Linked DNA regions of Homo sapiens: region 1 is linked to region 2. The links come from fine-mapping of genetic effects on gene expression. A gene starts in region 2. The other region holds a variant in brackets. All regions are shown on one strand. Distances are between the middles of the regions.

Region 1 (5,380 bases), 25 kb before region 2:
GCCCTTTCCTCTCAACGCTTTCCACTGACAAAGACCAGCATGGGGCAAGGGAGAAATGTTCCAGTATCACAAGTGGCAATGAAGGGTGGATTTAGAGTTGAGACGCAATAAACTGATAACTGCTATAACAGACATGCAAGAAAGAGAGGAAAATATGACCTATAACCATACACAGTCAATAGAAACTGACCTAGAAACGACAGAGATAAAGGAACTAGCAGACAAGGACAATAGTTCGGCATATATTTAAGAAGGTAAAGGGAAACATGAGCATGATGAGAACACGGAAGATATAGAAAGATCCAAATGGAACTTCCAGAGACAGTAAAAACAAAACCTGAAATGAAAAGATGCACTGGATGGGATTAACACCAAATAAACACTGAAAGAGAAAAGATCCATGAATTTGAAGACATAGCAATTGAAACTACTCAAATAAGGCAGAGAGAAAAAATTATTGGACACTATCAAGCTGTCTAATGTGCACATAATTGGAAGTCCTAGAAGAAAAACAAAGAGGAGACAGAAATATTTGAAGAAATAAGCAAAATTTCCCAAATATGATGAAAACTGTCAATTCACACATCCAAGAAAGTCAATAAAACCCAAACAGAGGCCGGGCGTGGTGGCTCACGCCTGTAATCCCAGCACTTTGGGAGGCCGAGGCAGGCGGATCACGAGGTCAGGAGAACAAGACCATCCTGGCTAACACGGTGAAACACCGTCTCTACTAAAAAATACAAAAAATTAGCTGAGTGTGGTGGCGGGCGCCTGTAGTCCCAGCTACTCGGGAGGCTGAGGCAGGAGAATGGCGTGAACCCTGGAGGCGGAGCTTGCAGTGAGCCAAGATTGCGCCACTGTACTCCAGCCTGGGCAATGGAGCGAGACTCCGCCTCAAAAAAAAGAAAAACCCAAACAAAATAAACCTGAAGAAGACTGCACCAAGACACATCATAATCAAGTTGTAGAAAACCAGTGTTAAATTAAAAAGTCTTAAAAGCAGTTAAGCTAAAAAGCATATTATGTACTGATAAATATAGGTAAGAATGACATGATACTTCTGCTGTAAGCGGAAAGACAAAGAAGTAACATCTTTAAAGTACTGGGAAAAACACACACACACACACACACACACACACACACACACTCACAAAAACTGGTCAACTGGAATTATTTTTATCTACCAAAAATATCATTAAAAAATGAAGGCAAAGGACTTTCATTCTTCAGTGAGGCATGTCAGGAGCTTAGAAGTTGTCACTACCATCCTTACAAGAAACAACACTGAACTGGCAAACAACCCCTTTTAGCTGCATCAGAGAACTGAAGTTACAGGGCAAATGACTGCCCCCGACACAGGAGACATGTCAACAGGGTGAACTGGAGCTTACCTGAGCAGGAGCCCAGGAGTGGAAACGAGGGTAGGAAAATTTACACAGCAATTCATGAACTGCTGGAGACTCAATGTGGACTTTACCTCCATGAGCCCTACCAGACTCTCACAGTCAAGATCAGAGAAAGATCCTCTCATACTTCTGGCGGGGGAGGGGGAAAGCAGCCATGTGGACTATGTCTAGAGCTTCCTGTTCTTAACAAGGCCTGTCCTCAAAGGAAACTATTTTACAAGAGCCTAACTTAATTAGGTTTTATAAGATCCTCATCAGCCTAAGGGAAAGGTTGACCCAACTTAAGCACCCCTAAGCCTTCCACAGGCAGGAAAGAAAGGGCCTAACTCCAGCCCCCTCTCCCTTCCTGTTTCACCTAAGGAGGCAAAAACCCCAAACTGAGAAGTGCTGGTAAAAGTCACAGGCCAGGGGCACAGGCTCACAAAAAGACTGAGACCTAGTCACAGGACTTAGGACACTTCCCCTCCTTCCCACCACATAAATAGGGCTCCTATATAATAACAAGAGAATAGAACGGAAAAACCTGCATATCTCAGACTTTATTTAAGAAGTCTCTACGGAAACCCAAGGAAGGAAAAACAGACCCAGGAGGAAATTTTAGTTCTGACACCTATAGTTACAGCAAACAGCAGACAGAGCCTAACGCCTAGCCAGATAAACTAAAAAACTCACACCAAAGGCTGATTTTCCTCAGTTACTTCCTTTTCTTTTCTTTTTTTTTTGAGATGGAGTCTCATTCTGTCACCCAGGCAGGAGTGCACTGGCTCAATCTCTACTGACTGCAACCTCTGCCTCCTGGGTTCAAGCGATTCTCCTGCCTCAGCCTCCCAAGTAGCTGGGATTACAGGCGCCTGCCACCATGCCCAGCTAACTTTTGTATTTTTAGTAGAGACAGGCTTTCGCCATGTTGATCAGGCTGGTCTCGAACTCCTGACCTCAAGTGATCAGCCTGCGTTGGCCTCCCGAAGTGCTGGGATTACAGGCATGAGCCACTGTGCCTGGCCTGTTTTTTTTTCTTTTTTTCCCCAGACAGAGTCTCACTCTGTTGCCCAGGCTGGAGTACTGT[G/A]GCATGATCTTGGCTCACTGCAACCTGCACCTCCCGGGTTCAAGCAATTCTCGTGCCTCAGCCTCCTGAGTAGCTGGGATTACGGGCGTGTGCCACCATGCCCAGTTAGTTTTTCTATTTTTAGTAGAGACGGGGTCTCTACGTTGCCCAGGCTGGTCTTGAACTCCTGGGCTCAAGCGATCCTCCCCGCTCAGCCTCCCAAAGTGTTGGGATTACAGGCGTGAGCCACCATGCCCGGCCTCCTCAGTTCCTTTTAACAAGTACATCAAGTCCGGTTTTCAACAAAAAAATTACAAGGCATACTACGATTAAAAAGCAGACTTTGAAGAGATATAGCAAGCATCAAACCCAGACTCAGAAATAGCAGAGATGTTAGAATTATCACAGCTAACAACTCTGATTTAAAACAACTATGATTAATATGCTAAGGGCTCTAATGGAAAAAGTAGATGATATGCTAAAACAGATGGGTAATTTCAGCAGAGATAAAGACTCAAAGAATCAAAAGGAAATGCTAGAAACAAAAAAAACTAAGAAAAGTGAAGAATGCCTTTGATGGATTCATCGATTAGATACAGTCAAAGGAAAGAATCAATGAGCTTGAAAAAAAATGTCAGTAGCAACTTCCCAAACTGAAACTCAGAGAGAAAAGAATGAACAAGATGGAACAGAATATCCAAGAACTGTGGGACAATTAGAAAGGCATAAATATGCATAATGGGAATCCAGAAGATGATGACAGGCAGAAATGAGCAGAAAAAGTATCTGAAACAATAATGAACTGAGAATTTTCCAAAACTGATGACAGATGCCAAACACAGTTCTGGGGAGCTCACAGAATACCAGGTAGGATAAATAGCAAAAAACAAAAACAGAACAAAACTACATGTAAGCATACAATAAACTACAGAAAATCAAAGACAAAGAGAAAATCTTGAGAGAAGCCACAGGGAAATAAATTCCTTTCCTATAAAGGAGTAAGGATAAGAATTACATCACACTTCTTTGAGAAATTATTCAAGGGAAAACAGTAGAGGGAATATTTATAGTGTTGTAAGGAAAAAAAAAAAACCCTATTAACCTAAAAATCTGTATCCAGTAAAATTACCCTTCAAAAGAGAAGAGACTTTCTCAGAAGAATAAAAATTAACAGAATCTGTCATCAGTAGACCTGCCTTGCAAAAAATATTAAGAAGTGTTTGAGAAAGAAGGAAAATAATACAGGTCAGAAATAAAGACCTATAAAGGAAGAGCATTAGAGAATAAATAAGTGAAGGCAAAATATTTTACTTTTCTTACTTTTTTTTTTTTTTTTTTTTTTTGAGACAGAGTCTGGCTCTGTCACCCAGGCTGGGGTGCAATGGTGCGATCTTGGCTCACTGCAACCTCTGCCTCCCAGGTTCAAGCAATTCTCCTGCCTCAGCCTCCTGAGTAGCTGGGATTATAGGCACACGCCACCACGCACAGCTAATTTTTTTATTTTTAGTAGAGATGGGGTTTCACCATGTTGGCCAGGCTGGTCTTGAACTCCTGACCTCAAGCGATCCATCTGCCTCAGCCTCCCAAAGTGCTGGGATTACAGGCAAAAGCCACCACGCCCGGTCTACTTTTCTTATTTTTAACTTATTTTTAACAGTTTGTTCAAGGTAATAACAGCAACAGCTAGGCATGGTGGTGCATGCCTCTAGACCCAGTTACTCAAGAGGCTGAGGCAGGATAGCTTTAGTCCAGGAGTTCTGGGCTATTTGGACTGAGTGTCTGCACTAAGTTTGGCATCAAAATGGTGACCTCCCCTCCTTAAGGACCACCAGGTTGCCTAAGGAGGGGTGAATAAGCCCAGGTCAGAAATGAAGCAGGTCAAAACTCCTGTACTGATCAGTCATGGGATTGCACTTGTGAATAGCCACTGCACTCTAGCCTGGGCCACATAGTAACACTCTGACTCTATTATTAATATTTTTAAAAGCTGGGTACAATGGCTCACACCTGTTAATCCCAACACTTTGGGAGGCTGAGGCGGGAGGACTTCTTAAGACCAGGAGTTCAAGATCAGCCTGGGCAACATAGCGAGACCCTGTCTCTACTAGAAATTAAAAAAAAAAATTATCTAGGCATGGTGGTGCACACCTGTCGTCTCAGCTACTTGAGGGGCTGAAGCAGGAGGATCATTTGAGCCCTGGAGTTCAAGGGTGTGGTGTGCTATGATCGCACCACTATATTCCAGCCTGGACGACAGACCAAGACCCTGTCTCGGCCAGGCACAGTGGCTCATGCCTGTAATCCCAGCACTTTGGGAGGCCGAGGTGGGCAGATCACGAGGTCAGGAGTTCGAGACCAGCCTGGCTAATACAGTGAAACCCCATCTCTACTAAAACTACAAAAAATGAGCCGGGCATGGTGGCGGGCACCTGTAGTCCCAGCTACTCAGGAGGCTGAGGCAGGAGAATGGTGCAAACCTGGGAGGTGGAGCTTCCAGTGAGCCCAGATTGCGCCACTGCACTCCAGCCTGGGTGACAGAGCGAAACTCTGTCTCAAAAAACAAACAAACAAACAAAAAAACCCTGTCTCGACAACAAAAACAAAAACAAACCCGCAACAATGTATTCAATGATTGGGTCAATAATCATCCTTACTGTCCCTTATGATATTGCTGTCAATAATTTCACTTATGGCCAGGTGCGGTGGTTCACGCCTGTAATCCCAGCACTTTGGGAGGCCGAGACGGGCGGATCACGAGGTCAGGAGATCGAGACCATCCTGGCCAACATGGTGAAACCCCGCCTCTACTAAAAATACAAAAAAACTTAGCCAGGCGTGGTGGTGGGCACCTGTAGCCCCAGCTACTTGGGAGGCTGAGGTAGGAGAATGGTGTGAATCCGGAATCCAGAGCTTGCAGTGAGCCGAGATC
Region 2 (5,380 bases):
CTTGCTATTTCTGAGGAACCCCATAAAGGTTCTGGCCTAGACTTTCTCCTTGTTCCTATTTCTTCCTCCTAACCAAAAGCTGATGTCTCCCTTGTGGCTCTGAACGTGGTGGCACGCCTCCTTTTCTTGAGAAATGTAAGTAAATTATTTCAGGCCAGGCGCGGTGGCTCACACCAGTAATCCCAGCCCTTTGGGAGGTCCAGGCAGGAAGATCGCCCGCCTGATGTCAGGAGTTTGAGACCAGCCTGGCCAACATGGTGAAACCCCGTCTCTACTAGAAATACAAAAAATTACGCCGGGCGCGGTGGCTCACACCTGTAATCCCAGCACTCTGGGAGGCCAAGGCGGGCAGATCACGAGGTCAGGAAATCGAGACCATCCTGGCTAATATGGTGAAACCCCGTCTCTACTAAAAATACAAAAAATTAGCCAGGTGTGGTGGCGGGCGCCTGTAGTCCCAGGTATTCGGGAGACTGCGGCAGGAGAATGGCGTGAACCCGGGAAGCAGAGCTTGCAGTGAGCCGAGATCACACCACTGCATTCCAGCCTGGGCAACAGAGCGAGATTTTGTCCAAAAAAAAAAAAAAAAAAAAAAATTAGCCAGGCGCGGTTGCGGGCGCCTGTAATCCCAGCTACTCCGGAGGCTGAGGCAGGAGAATCGCTTGAACCAGGGAAGTGGAGGTTGCACACACCACTGCGCTCCAGCCTGGGCAACAAGAGCCAAACTCCGTCGAAAACGAAGCAAGGAAGGGAAGGAAGGAAAGAGAAATTATTTCAACAGCACTGGCCTCTCCATGTCGTCACTCAGTCTCCTCTATAAATTCAAGTCCCAAGACACCCTGCCCTACCCTTGCCTCTGGGCTGCTTATCATTCTTGTTCTGTCTTCTTTATCCAGTTGGAAACCATATTACAAACTAACTTAGATTTCCAAGCCAGAGAGCAAGTAAACACCTCCTAAATCCTTCATCAAGGAAAACCTCTTGGAAGGTTTTGAAGCTCAACATTCAGAATCAAATGTAGTCTTACCCAGTAATTCCACTCCTAGAACACAAAAACTTGTGTTATGAACACGAATGTTCATAGCAGCATTATTTCTAACAGCCAAAAAGTAAAAACATCCATATGCCCATCACCTGATACATGGATAAACAAAACATGGTCCATCCAAACACGTGATTATGCAGCCATGAAAAGGCATGCAGTACTGATTCATCTACATGGATGAAATCTTGAAAACATGCTTAATAAAAGCCCAGCAGAAAAAGCCAAGTATCACATGATCCCATTTACATAAAATGTACTGAATACGCAAAACCACAGAGACAGAAAGCCGATAAGTGATTGCCAGGGGATGGGGTCGGGGGAATTGCGGAGTGACTACGAATGGGTACGGCAGGTTCGATTTGGGGTTTTAAAACGTTCTGGAATTAGCGACGATGGCTGCAAATCCTGTGAACGTACTGGAAACCACTGAATGTACACTTCTAGTGTGCATTTTATGATACTGTATCTTTTAAAAAACATATTGTCTGCCCTGCAAACTGATTCCTTTACACCTCTCCTGTGTTCATTATTTCAGTGACTGGAGGCACACTACTCTCAGATGTTAAGGCCAGAAACCGGCAAATCGTTAACAACTGCGTCTTGACTATGCTCCATATTTCTCCATTCTTTTCGCTCCACCTCCTAATTCGGGCCGCTCTCACTTTTCATCTAGATTATGTAATAGCCTCCTAATGGGTGTCCTTGCCTCATCTGTTCTCACTGTAATTAGGCCTTTAAAAACAAAATCTTACGCCGGGCGTGGTGGCTCACGCCTGTAATCTCAGCGCTTTGGGAGGCCGAGGCGGGAGGATCTCTTGCGGCCAGGGCTCGAGACCAGCCTGGGCAACATAGTGAGACTCCCCCCCCCGCCCCCACCGCCCGTCTCTACTTAAAAAAAAAAAAAAAAAAAGCCGTGAGCGGTGGCTCACGCCTGTAATCCCACCACTTTGGGAGGCCGAGGCGGGCGGATCACCTGAGGTCAGGAGTTGGAGACCAGCCTGGGCAACAGAGTGAAACCTAGTCTCTACTAAAAACACAAAAATTAGCTGGGCGTGGTGACTGGCGCCTGTAATCCCAGCTACTTGGGAAGGTGAGGCACAAGAACCGCTCGAACCCGGGAGACAGAGGTTGCAGTGAGCCGAGATCGCGCCACTGCACCCCAGCCTGGGCAACAAGAGCAAAACCCCGTCTCAAAAAACAAACAACAAAAAACCTTCAATGGCTCCCGACGACCCCAAGTTGAAGCTCAAACCCTTAATACGATGTGTAAAGTCCCTCAAATACCAAGCCATGGCAAACCTCTGCTACCTTTCCCCCAGGCCCTGGCTGGCTTCACCCTAGCCCTGCGGAAGAGCTCGGGCATCCCCTCCAGGCACCTGAAGCGCGGCAGAATCCCCTCTTCACGTAGCTAACCCTCCCCGACCTCCAGGCCTCGACTCTCACGCCACCCCACCTGAGAGGAAGCTTCTCGGGCCCCCAGGCCAGATTTGGTGCCTCTCCCGGTCCCCCTCACACCGTCCACTCTCCGCTCCACAGGCAGGTATGCCCAGAGGGGGCCGCCGTTGTATCCGCGAACATTTCCTGAGCCAGCTGGGGAGGAACCAGACTTTATCTCACAGCTGCCACAGTGCCTTAAACTCGCCCTAACTCTTTCTCAAAAACTAACAGACTCCACCTGAAGCAAGCGCCGCTTCCGCCTCGCCCCGCCTCCTGCCGACCGGAAGCGCTGGCCGCCGCGGGCCCGCGCCCGGCGCCGCAGAGGAAGACCGGAAGCGAGGCTGCCGCACCACCGCGCGCGCCCGCTCTGCGCCTGCGCGCAGGCAATGCTCCGCGGGGGCGCGGGCGGCGCATGCGCAGGCGCGCGAGTCTCCGTTAAGAAGGTGCCGCGGCGGCGCCGGAGGTAGGAGGAGCCGGGCTGTGGGGCTGGGAGTCGGCACCCGGGAGGCGGAGGTCCTGTCATTTCGGGCCGTTCTCTCTTTCCTAAGGGAGAAGAGCCTTTCTCGCCCGTCTCCCTCGCTGGCTCCGTGGCCTCGGCAGGCCCGCAGCCCCGACGGAGAGGCAGGAGCCGCACTCGGGTGGAGAGGGGCCGGGGCCCGCCTGGAGGGAGGAGGGTGGCGGATCCGGATCCCCACGGTGGTCTCCGTCCGGGCCAGTCCGGGGATCGGGGTTCTCCGTCTGACTTTAGAGCCGTTAGAGTCTTTGGCAGCCCTTTTCCCAGACGGGGAACCCCTCAGCCCCTTTCCGTAGGTCGCCGGGTTGGGGGAAGCGGGAGGGTCCGCCCCTTACCGATCCATTCATTCATCCCTCGCCTGCTGTGAGCCGTGGGCTGCGGTAGGTACGAAGCAAGGAGGCACAAGTCCCCTTCCCTCTGGAAACCTGCAGGCTTGCAGGATCCGTTATGTCATTCAGTAAATCTTGACTGGGCACCTATAGGAGGAGATAGACTGTTGTGAGGTTCATATCAACAGAGATGCGGAGATCAACACAGTTGTGGAGGTGGAATTTGTTCCAGCCGCTCCCCGCATCCAACAGGATAAAATTCACTTTGCCTAGCCTGACCTTCCAGGCCCTTGTGAGCCAATCCTTTCCTCTCCCCGCAGCGTTTTCTCCTACACCTTTCTCTCTACTCCCATTATACCGAACTCTTTGCAATTCATGAATTCAACAAGTAGTTGTGGAGCACTTATTTCAAGTCAGGCACCAGATCAGCCAAAGAGGTTGCAAAGTAATAGATGGATCTCTACCCTCCTGAAGTGTTGAGCTTAATGGGGGACAGATAATAAGCCGATGAATAAAAACACAAGAGCGGATAGTTTCGAACCACACTTCCTGGGTTTGATCCCAGCCCTGCCACTGTGAAAGCTGTTCCTGAACTGGCTTTAGGCCAGTTCCTCATTCTGCTTGCGCGTGTTTCCTTGCCGTAAAGACAGGATGACAAGAGATTCCACCATATAGGCTTCTTGTAAGGATTAAACGAGTTTGACTTGGAAAGCAATTGGAACAGTGCTTGGCACACAGTAAGCATTCGATAGATATTACCTGTTTCATATGATGATAACCTATGACAGATGCCATTGTGAAAACAGTGGGCGATGATAGGGATTAACGGGGATGGAGACGGTCCATAAAGGATTAGAGGACACTTCTCTAAGGGGAAGACACAGAAGAGAATGCGCCAGCCATACAAAGTAGATTCTAGGTAGGAGTATTTTCAGCTCTGGAAAACAAAATGATTAATTAGATTCCTTGGACAGTGGAGATTGCATTATTGTATTTGAAAGGAATAACTTTCTGCCATTGGGTCATTCAGTTTTGATTTTTGAACCCCACTTAGCTGTGTGCCAAAGTAAACAACCATGCTCACGAGGCCCAGCCTTTGCACACAGGCGACATTCCAGTCATCCAGGTTTGGAGAGCCTTGCTGGGTTGAGAAGATAAGTAAAAGTGACCTTTTCTCTCCTGAGTGTTCATGAGAATATAATGTCTCTTTCTGTCTCTTATGTTGCAGTATTTACAGAAAGAGCCTCTTTAACAGCCAGGGGTCTTAGATCAGTGTAGGAGATAGTTTTCCTAGATTTGGGGATCATCCTGTTTCTGTGGTGACTGCCTTTTATGGGGTTTGCTCCCTAAATTTCAGTTAAGAAAACACTCTCCCAAGATGCACATATTTTAATACCTGTGGAAGAACAACATGCTTTGACAGGTTTCTAGGTCCTTTTGTTGTGATGTCTGATAGGACGGTTAGACCATGTTAACCAGGCTGGACTGAGTATTTGACAGTATTGTTACTCCGAAGACTTTTCCCTCACCCCACATGCCCTTGTCCCTCCCTGGAAGAACTGGCATAAAATGACAATGTCTGATTACACTTACATGCTTTTGGTTTTCCACAGATGTGTAATTAAGTGAACCATATATGTTTCATCATCATGGAGATCTTGGAGAATTATCTGAGCACCAGGTTCATATGTATTCGATCTCAGAGGCATCTATTGGACAACAAAACACTCTTTCAGTTGTGAACTTTATTTATTTATTATTATTATTTTTTGAGACAGAGTTTTGCTCTTGTTGCCCAGGTTAGAGTGCAGTGGCACGATCTCGGCTCACTGCAATCTCCGCCTCCCAGGTTCAAGCGATTCTCTTGCCTCTGCCTCCCGAGTAGCTGGGATTACAGGCATCTGCTACCACGCCTGGCCAATTTTTTGTATTTTCAGTTGAAACGAGGTTTCACCATATTGGCCAGGCTGGTCTCGAACTTCTGACCTCAGGTGATCCACCCCCCGCCTCGTCCTCCAAAAGAGCTGGGATTACAAGTGTGAGCCACCGCGCCCG

Evidence for each region.
Region 1: its variant is fine-mapped to the expression of SLX4 in whole blood (TOPMed, PIP 0.95).

Annotation. Positions count from the first base shown.
Region 1 is chr16:3,633,872-3,639,251 of GRCh38, reverse strand. It overlaps a transcript of DNASE1 not described here. Among named protein-coding and RNA genes, the nearest start is that of DNASE1, 18 kb to the left of the region's middle. RefSeq lists an enhancer at 1,593-1,642. The variant G/A (reference allele first, on the strand shown) is at 2,473.
Region 2 is chr16:3,609,125-3,614,504 of GRCh38, reverse strand. SLX4 (SLX4 structure-specific endonuclease subunit) reads left to right here and starts at 2,899. Exons shown (of 15, transcript NM_032444.4): 1 at 2,899-2,945; 2 at 4,939-5,380. It also overlaps a transcript of DNASE1 not described here. RefSeq lists an enhancer at 2,582-2,651 and a silencer at 2,692-3,041.